2 separate regions of the Homo sapiens genome follow, and region 2 is linked to region 1. The links come from fine-mapping of genetic effects on gene expression. Tissue or cell type: esophagus muscle. Region 1 holds a variant in brackets; the other region holds the start of a gene. All regions are shown on one strand. Distances are between the middles of the regions.

The links. PIP is the estimated chance that this variant, and not a neighbour inherited with it, causes the effect.
Region 2: it holds the start of ABCD4, and the variant in region 1 is fine-mapped to the expression of ABCD4 in esophagus muscle (GTEx, PIP 0.95).

What each region holds. Positions count from the first base shown.
Region 1 is chr14:74,765,072-74,770,278 of GRCh38, forward strand. The region is part of intron 1 of YLPM1 (YLP motif containing 1); the gene reads left to right. Among named protein-coding and RNA genes, the nearest start is that of YLPM1, 4.4 kb to the left of the region's middle. The variant TTTTG/T (reference allele first, on the strand shown) is at 3,179.
Region 2 is chr14:74,300,002-74,305,115 of GRCh38, forward strand. It overlaps ABCD4 (ATP binding cassette subfamily D member 4), which reads right to left and starts at 2,933. Exons shown (of 19, transcript NM_005050.4): 1 at 2,874-2,933; 2 at 149-267. The coding sequence starts at 2,911. It also overlaps a transcript of VRTN not described here. RefSeq lists a silencer at 2,682-2,761 and an enhancer at 3,022-3,381.

The DNA.
Region 1 (5,207 bases):
AAAGAAACAGCCTTGCAATTTGGCCAACGTAAAAAAAGTTTGGTGATATCTTTTCATGAGAGAGTCAGCCATTCTTATCCCGCAGAACAGACAAATTGACAGGGTAACAGTAATAAACGAGTTCCCCCTTGAGAGAGGGAAGGTCAAACTAAAGCAGAATAAATCAATTGTTATGATTTCCTAAAGTAGACACTTTTTCAGCGATTACTAATTTACCTTAGATTCACTAAGGAAAAAAGAGAATCTTGTAATATAAACGCTCAGATTTACCTATAAAAGATTTCCAAAAGATAGGGATGCAGTATTATAATTTTACGGTGGTTTGGCATTAGAAATTAAGAACAGAAGCAAGTTGTTTTAAGAAATGATGCTTGGCACATCTTCTGGAGAAAACACTTGGGATGCTGAAATAAAGTAGTAGAATAATGATTCTGTTGGCTTACATCAAATTTGTACCATCTCACCAGTTTATTTTCCCCAGATTGCTCTATTATAGAGACAGACTTTCTGTCCTCTTTCCCACCCCACTCTGAAGTCTTTAGTGCTTTTGTTGTCAAACATTCTCAGTTAGTCTGAGCCAAAATAGGACATTTATATTCTCACTCTACTAGACTGTTTTTCTGACCTTACAGAGAGACAAAATAATTGTATTTTTGGCTTTTTTTGGGAGGAGTGTGTGTGTCAGATCAGGCCTTAATATGTATAGTTACCATGAACAGTGCTTTTACTTTTCTGCCTTTGTACCCTTTTCTGTAATGAACTCAGTGTCTTGAATATTCAGTGCCTGCAATTCTTTGGTGAGAGGCAGAGTGGTGGAAAATGAGACTTGTGGTGCACATAGACCAGATCAAGAAGAGCCTTGAAGCCTGTGGCTTTCTTTCTTCTTTTTAGAATTCATCCTAACCTCCTCAACCCTCTGTTTCCCCTTAGAGTTGTATTGCTTTCAAGGCATATCTCAAATATCAAGGTTTCCATGAAGCCCTGCTTGTGCTCACCCATCTGGTTTGGTTCTGTTCTTCAGATTGTAAGTCCCTTGCAGACAGGAATTATCTTACTTATCTTCTTATTACCGTAGCACCTAGGACAGTGCCTTGCAAATTGTAGGCTCTCCACAGATTTGTTGAATAAAATACGAGAGTTGTCATGTTCTAGACTTAGGATATGTTGGTTTATTAGATGATAAATATTTCTTCATGCCAGTACCAGTCTCTGGCAATCCTTCTACATATTTATTATTCTTTGATTCATATTTTGTTTTTGGAATGTGTCATTCAAAATTTCTTATCGTGAAATATTTTTAAAATACACAAAATAGAGAAAAAAGTATGATTCCCCATACATACCCATCATTGAGATTCAACAGCTATCAAGATTTTGCCATGTTTACTTCACCTAGGCCTTTTTTATTATTGTTGCATATATATATATTGAGACAGGGTCTTGCTCTGTCAGTCACCCAGGGTGGAGTGTAGTGGCATAGTCTCAGTTCACTGCAACCTCTGCCTCCCAGGCTCAAGCCATCCCAAGTAGCTGGGACTACAGGTGCATGCCACCATGCCTGGCTATTTTTTTTTTTTTTTTTTTTTGGTAGAGACGGGGTTTTGCTATGTTGCCCAGGCTGGTCTTGAACTCCTGAGCTCAAACAGTACACTGCCTTGACCTCTCAAAGTGCTGGGATTATGGGCATGAACCACCACACCTGGCCTCTGCTGAAATATTTTAAAGCAAATCTTAGATCTTATGTCATTTCATCCCTACATTCTTAGTCAAGTACCTCTATAAAACAAAACAAAACAAAACCAAGACCTTTTCTTTTTTTTTTTTTTTTTTGAGATGGAGTCTCACACTGTTGCCCAGGCTGGAGTGCAGTGGCGCGATCTTGGCTCATTGCAACCTCTGCCTCCCGGGTTCAAGCGATTCTCCTGCCTCAGCCTCCTGAGTAGCTGGGATTACAAGTGCATGCCACCACGCCTGGCTAATTTTTGTATTTTTAGTAGAGACGGGGTTTCACCATGTTGGTCAGGCTGGTCTTGAACTCCTGACCTCATGATCCAGCTGCCTTGGCCTCCCAAAGTGCTGGGATTACAGGCGTGAGCCACCGTGCCCGGCCAAGACCCTTTCTTAGATAAACACATTGTTAACACCTAACAAAGTTAACAGTTTCTTGGTATCATCTAATACCTGATCCGTTCAGATTTCCTTTATTGTTTCATCATACTAATGAACTAAAAATAATTCTTTGATACCATCCATGTTAAAATACCCCAAATTGACTCAACAGTGTTGTTGTTTTCTGTCCTCACAGTCTGTTCCCAAACAATGTTTTTTTGGTGTGTTCAAGTCAGAGTCCAAACAGAATACTGAAAAGATTCTTAGTATAGATCAGGGTTTCTCAGCTTCGGCACTATGGACATTTTGGGCAGGATGATTCTTTGTTGTGGAGGGGCTTGTCCTATGCATTGTAGGATGTTTAACAGCGTCCCTGACCTCTACCCATTAGATGCCAGTGGCAGCCCCCAGTCCGACAACCAAAAATGTTTCCACACATTGCCAAGTATCCCCTGGAGACAAAATTACCCTCTGTTGAGAACCCTTGACCTAGGTCAGTCCCTCCTATTTTCTTTTTCTACCTCATGTCTTTGAACTTGATGAAAAATCTGTTGTCAGTTTTCCTGTAGAATGTCTGACATTCTGCATTGTCTGCTTTTTCATGGTGTCACATTTGACTTGTTCCTATGTCTTCCACATTTTTTTTTTTTTTGAATTAGAAGTTAACTCTGGAACCTTCATTTAAGTTCAGCTTTCTTTTGGCAAGTGTTGCATTCCTCATGGGACACCCGATGCCTGGTTGTCCCACTGTTAGTAATGCCATTGGTCCCTCTACTGTAAAGCTTTCTATCAATCTTGCATCTAATGTTTCAGTCTACTGGTTCATCAATTGAAGAAAGACCTTGCCTAAGTAAATTATTTCATTAGACAGAGGTTGCAACCTGGTGATTTTTTTTTTCTGCCATTTCTTCCACAGTTACTATATGGAGTTATGTAAAGAAAAACTTTTGCCACAGATATTTGATTGGAAATACAGTTGGTATAGGAAGGACAAGATAAATACTTGATATTTTTCCAGGTGTTTTCTAGTTTTTCGGGTAAAGTGTTGATGATTTAATGGAATGTGTTT[TTTTG/T]TTTGTTTGTTTCTGAGAGAGAGTCTCACTCTGTCGCTCAGGCTGGAGTGCAGTGGTGAAATCTCGGCTCACTGCAACTTCCACTTCCTGGGTTCAAACAATTCTGCCCTAGCCTCCCAAGTATATGGGATTACAGGTGCATGCTACCATGCCTGGCTAGTTTTTGTATTTTTAATAGAGATGGGGTTTCACCATGTTGGTCAGGCTGGTCTCGAACTCCTGACCTCAAGTGATCCACCTGCTTCGGCCTCCCAAAGTGCTGGGATTATAGACGTGAGCCACTGCGCCCGGTCGGAATGTGTCTTTTTGAATAATTAATTTTTCTATGTGTTTAAAGGACTGATTTATTTAGTTAAAGCTGTTGGCTTTGATTAGTTTTTAGAGGTATCATTTATTTAATGTTTAAATACTTACGGACTAGCAACTATGTGCCAGGTACTATGAGTACTGTGCTTAATACTGGAGATGAAATGGTTAACAAGATAGACATGGGACCTGCCCTCATTGACTTCTTGTTTCAGTTGTGGGGGAAGGGAGAAGACATTTAGTAAGTAATTAAGAGGAGACGTACAGAGTGCTATGGGATTATAAAATATCACTAGATTATTCCCCAAGGAACTGGCAAAGGCAAGTTTTTTGTTTTTTGTTTTTTTTTTAAGTTACCACTGTATTCACAGTACCTTGCATAGGATCTAGCGCATAGGAGGTGGAGAACAAATATATTTTAAATAATTGAATATAGCTGGGAGCGCTAACCTAATTAAAGAGGATTCCCTTTGTAAAGTGATATTTTTTATTTTTTATTTGTTTTTATTTTATTTTATTTATTTTTATTTTTTTGAGATGGAGTCTCGCTCTGTTGCCCAGGCTGGAGTGCAGTGGCGCGATCTCGGCTCACTGCAACCTCCGCCTTCCGGGTTTAAGCAATTTTCTGCCTCAGCCTCCCTAGTAACTGGGATTACAGGTGCCTGCCACCACGCCCGGCTAATTTTTTTGTATTTTTATCTTTTTTTTTTTTTTTTTTTTTTTTTTTTTGGAGACGAAGTCTCACTCTTGTTGCCCAGGCTGGGGTGCAATGGCACGATCTCGGCTCACTGCAACCTCTGCCTCCCGGGTTCAAACAATTCTCCTGCCTCAGCCTGCCTCAGCTACTCCCAGGAGTAGCTGGGATTACAGGCGCCTGCCACCACGCTTGGCTAATTTTTGTATTTTTAGTAGAGACGAGGTTTCACCATGTTGGCTAGGCTGGTCTCGAACTCCTGACCCCAGGTGATCTGCCTGTCTCAGCCTCCCAAAGTGCTGGGGTTACAGGTGTGAGTCAGAGTGCCCGGCCATTTTTTTTTGTATTTTTAGTACAGAAGAGGTTTCACCATCTTGGCCAGGCTGGTCTTGAACTCCTGACCTCGTGATCCACCTGCTACGGCCTCCCAAAGTGCTGGGATTACAGGCGTAAGCTGCCACGCCGGGCCTGTAAAGTGATATTTAAATGAACTCTAAAGAATAAGTAGGAGGACTGGGTGCTCACACCTGTAATCCCAGTTCTTTGGGCTCATTAGAGGCCGGGAGTTCAAGGCCAGCCTGGGCAACAAAGTGAGACACCCCCCCCCCCGCCCCCCGCCCACAAAAAGTTTAAAAAACTAGCCAGGTGGCCGGGCGCAGTGGCTCACGCCTGTAATCCCAGCACTTTGGGAGGCCTAGGCGGGCAGATCACGAGGTCAGAAGATCAAGACCATCCTGGCTAACATGGTGAAACCCCATCTCTACTAAAAATACAAAAAATTAGCCGGGCGTGGTGGTGGGCGCCTGTAGTCCCAACTTCTCAGGAAGCTGAGGCAGGAGAATGGTGTGAACCCGGGAGGCGGAGCTTGCAGTGAGCCGAGATCGCGCCACTGCACTCCAGCCTGGGCGACAGAGTGAGACTCCGACTCAAAAAAAAAAAAAACCTAGCCAGGCATGGTGTTGCATGCCTGTAGTGCCGGCTACTTGCGGGTGGCTGAGGTGGGAGGATTGTTTAAGCCCAGGAGT
Region 2 (5,114 bases), 470 kb before region 1:
GCAGTGAGCTGAGATTATGTCACTGCACTCCAGCCTGGGCAACAAGAGAGAAACTCTGTCTCAAAAAAAAAAAAAAAAAAAAAAAAGATGGAAAGGGACCCCAAACCAGAGCTCCCCTCCCTCCTCTAGTCTGGGCTCACTCACTCACCCAGTAGGGTCAGGCACAAAAGGGTCAGGAACATCAAGGCATTTTGTGATGACCAAGAAGGAAACAAAACCTTCAGTATCTGCAGGAACCGCTGGAGAAATTGCAGATCTAACCTGGGCCTGAAGAGAAGGTGGGGAGGCAGAGAAAAGCCCAAGACAATAATTAAGCCTTAGGGAGTAGTTATTAAGCTCATCCACATTGTTCTGTAGAGGGTCCAGGCCATGCAGAAAGAATGGTTTTCAAATGCTGAAGATGGTAGGCTGGGAACAGACCACGGATACAAAGGAAATTCTTTGGCCAAGCGTGGTGGCTCATGCCTGTAATCCCAGCTACTCGGGAGGCTGAGTCAGGAGAATTGCTTGGACCTGGGAGGCAGAGGTTGCAGTGAGCTGAGATTGCGCCATTGCAACAAGAGCCTGGGCAACAAGAGCAAAACTCCGTCTCAAAAAAAAAAAAAAAACCAAAAACAAAAAACTTAAAAAATTACAAATGGATTAAAAATCTAAACGTGAAAAGTAACACTATCATGTTAATAGAAGGAAATGTAGAAAAATGTCTTAATGAAGATACCTTAAAAACCTATACAGGGGAAAACTGATGAATTTAACTTCATTAGAGTTAAATGTTTTTATTCAACACAGTGCCATAGATTAAGTTAGAAGACTTGGAGGTGGTATCTGCAGAGTGCAAAACCAACAAGGACTTGAAATCTTTATTTTTTTGAGACGGAGTTTTGCTCGTTGCCCAGGCTGGAATGCAACGGCGCAATCTCGGATCACTGCAACCTCCGCCTCCCTGGTTCAAGTGATTCTCCTGTGTCAGCCTCCTGACAAGCTGCAATTACAGGTGCATGCCACCACGCCCGGCTAATTTTTGTATTTTTAGTAGGAGACGGGGTTTCATCATATTGGTCAGGCTGGTCTCGAACTCCTGACCTCCGGTGATCCACCTGCCTCGGCCTCCCAAAGTGCTGGGATTACAGGCGTGAGCCACCGCGCCTGGCCTAAAATCTTTTTTTTTTTTTTTTTGAGACAAGGTCTTGCTCTGTTGCCCAGGCTGGAATGCAGTGGTGCGATCTCAGCTCAGGGCAACCTCTGCCTCCCGGGTTCAAGCGACTGTCCCACCTCAGCCTTTTTAGTGGCTGGGAGTACGGGCGTGCGTCAACACGCTCAGCTAATTTTTGTATTTTTGGTAGAGATGGGGTTTCACCATGTTGCCCAGGCTGATCTTGAACTCCTGGACTCCAGTGGTCCACCTACCTCAGCCTCCCAAAGTGATAGGATGACAGGTGTGAGCCACCGGGCATGGCCAGGATCTAAATCTAGAGCCTACAAGAATTCCTGCAAGCCAGGAACATAGGAAATCCACAGAGAAGTGGGAAGGGATATAAACAGGCAATTCAAAAAAGGGAAAACCCACGTTTAATAAACACATGAAAATGTAGGCCGGGAGCAGTGGCTCACGTCTGTAATTCCTTTATGCACTGCCCGTCGGGAAGTGTAATCCCTGCACTTCGGGAGGCCGAGGCGGGTGGATCACCTGAGGTCAGGAGTTCAAGACCAGACTGGCCAACCCCCCCATCTTTGCTAAAAATACAAAAAATTAGCTGGGTGTGGTGGCGCGCGTCTGTAATCCCAGCTACTCAGGAGGCTGAGGCAGAAGAATCGCTTGAACCCGAGGCGGAGGTTGCAGTGAGCCGAGATCATGCCACTGCATTCCTGCCCGAGCAACAAGAGCAAAACTCCGTCTCAAAAGAAAGAAAGAAAGAAAGAAAGAAAATGTACACGATGGGATACCACCTTACACCCCCCAGACTGATAAACATTACAAAACCAGCCGCCACTGAACGATGGAGGGATACCGGGAAACAGGAAGCTTTATGCACTGCCCGTCGGGAAGTATAAACTAGTGTGACCATTCCAAAGAACAATCCAGCAAAATTAGATATGACCAGGACCCAACTCTGGGGTGGATACCCAGAGAAATGCAACAATATGCACAAGGAGACAACTGCCAGAATATTCGTTACAGTGTGGCTTGTGGGGGTGTTAATACTAGAAAAAAATCTATCCACCACTAGGGGAATAAGTCTATGCACACAGCACCCCTCATGCAAGCACTCAGAAGTGAAAACAAGATGACTAGCATGGATGGACTCAAAAACACAATGTTGAGGAAAAAGGTTTAAAGAAAAATCACAGCATATTATATTGAAGAATTCGAAACCGCTATATAGATTTCAAAGTAACACTTGCACAAATTTACCCAAGGTGGACCGTAAAGCCACTTATATAACACACCAGAGTGGCTGTCTGAAAAGGGGAGTGAAAGGGGTCTGGGAATAGGAACGAAGAGAGGAAGTGATAAAATAAACAAGGAGCCTTGCATTGGCCCACAGGGTGTCAAGAACTGAGAAGGATCAACTCAATTTTGTGCACCTGAGGTTCTTCTTTTCAAAAAAAGAATGCCAGTTGCGAGGGTGAGGGTCCCACACCGCAGGAGATGGCACAAGTCCGGCCAAGAACGGAGGGGGCCGCGGCCGGTGCGGAGCGGCCTAGAGCGGCGGGAGGGCGGACGCCCCTTCGAGAGCTCCTCTTTCTCTCAGAAGTCACGGGGGCGAGACGGGGGCGCCAGGGCGGCGGACGAGGCACGGAGGGCAGGAAAGCCCATTCCCTACAGCCCGGAACTCCTGCTCCCAAACCTCCTCCCCGACCGCCCTGCTTACCTGGCGCCAGCTCCGGGCGCGGGCCCCGCGACCGCCATGACCTGAGACCCGAGGGACTCTGGAGCCCAGCTGCCCCTAGTTCAGTACTGGGTAGAGTCCGAGGAGGGGCGGGGCCCCGGCTACCACAGAGACGGCGTTTGATAGAGAGGAAGGTGCGGGAGACGCGGACTCTCCCGGAAGCGACCGACGTCTCTAAAAGTACCAGAGAGTGGACTCGGCTGACCCGGCGGCTACAGCGCCCCCATATTTTCTGGGAGACTTCCCTTTTGACAATAGGTATCCGAGAGTGTAACTACTTTATGGCAAGTATTTTAGATTCTGTGTATAATAGATGTTTTACATATTCTCCCAGAGAAGCCAGCATGATCTTTAAAAAAGTATAAATTAGGCTTCCAGCCGGGCCCGGTGGGTTACTCCTGTAATCCCAGCACTTTGGAAGGCCAAGGCGGGAGGATCGCTTGAGCCCAGGAATTCAAGACCAGCCTGGGCAACATGGCAAGACCCCGCCTTTACAAAAGACAAAAGCATTAGCCGGGGATGGTGGCGAGCGCCTGTGGTCCGAGCTACTCTGGAGGCTGAGGCAGGAGAATCACTTGGGCCCGGAAGGTCAAGGCTGCAGTGAGCCGTGACTGTGCCACTGCACTCCAGCCTGGGCGACAAAGAGAGACCCTGTCTCAAAAACAAATAAATAGATGATAATGATCGATAGATAAGATAGATAGTTGAATGAATGAAATGCTTATCAGTTGACTGATTAGTACCCAAAGGGAGGTGGGAAATGGCTCAAAAAAAACCCAAACAGCATGATCCCACAGGTCCCTAAATTTGAATCTGGATGTGTCTTCTCACTTTCCTCCAATCCTTATTAAGTTTCAACTGCAAGCCAAACACTCTACAACATGCATGTATCACTTGTCTTTATGAAAGTTGCAGTCTAGCTGGGTAGGTCAATCAGTTGACAATTACAGATTTTTTTTTTTTTTTTTTTTTTTTTGATACGGAGTGTTGCTTTTGTTGCCCCGGCTAGAGTGCAATGGCGCGATATCGGCTCACGGCAACCTCAGCCTCCCGGATTGAAGCCATCCTCCTGCCTCAGCCTCCCGAGTAGCTAGGATTACAGGCATGTGCCACCACGCCCAGCTAATTTAGTATTTTTAGTAGAGACAGGGTTTCTCCATATTGGTCAGGCTGGTCTTGAACTCCTAACCTCAGGTGATCTGCCCGCCTTGGCTTTCCAAAGTGTTGGGATTACAAGAGTGAGCCACCGCTCCTGGCCTTTTTTTGTTTTTGTTTTTGTTTTAGACGGAGTTTCGCTCTTGTGGCTCAGGCTGGAGTGCAATGGTGCTATCTTGGCTCACTGCAACCTGTGCCTCCCGGGTTCAAGCGATTCTCCTGCCTCAGCCTCCCGAGTAGCTGGGATTACAGGCATGCACCACTATACCCGGCTAATTTTGTATTTTTAGTAGAGACGTGGTTTCTCCATGTTGGTCAGGCTGGTCTCGAACTCCCGACCTCAGGTGATCCACCCACCTTGGCCTCTCAAAATGCTGGGATTACAGGTGTGAATCACCGTGCCCGGCCTACAGCTGTCTTTATGAAGTGCTATGACAAACATACCATACAGCAGGGGTTCTCAACTTTGGCGCCATTAAGTTTTGGGGCCTGATCATTCTTTGCTGTGTAGGCTTTCCTATGCAATGTAGGATGTTTAGCTGTATCCCAGGCCTCTACGCACTAGATGCCGGTGGCATTCCTTCTGACCTAGGCATCCCAAAATGTCTCTAAACATTGCCAAATGTCCCTTAGGGGAGAAAGGACCAAAATTCCAGCTTTACCCCACCCCCTAGCATTGAGAACCACTGCCCCAGAACCAAAGAGAAAGGCATTTAACTCAGCATGGGGAAAAGTGGAATCTAGAAAGACTTTGAAGAGGAAATAACTTTATTCAAGTATGTCTTTCTTATTTTGAAAACCAAAAAAATAGGATGCAATTTTTGAAAAATTAATAAGGCAACCAAAGTATTAAAGCAAGCAACGTCACCTCTCTAGGGTAATCTAGGTTTACAGATCTTGTCCCCTTTCAGTCTCAAAAATGTCCTAGTTTGGTATTCGGTGGCATTACTGTCCCAGGGTGCCTCAGCATTGTCTATTACTGTAAACTTTTAAGAAGTAGCAGGCTGGGCACGGTGGCTCACGCCTGTAATCCCAGCGCTTTTGGAGGCCGAAGCAGGCAAATCACCT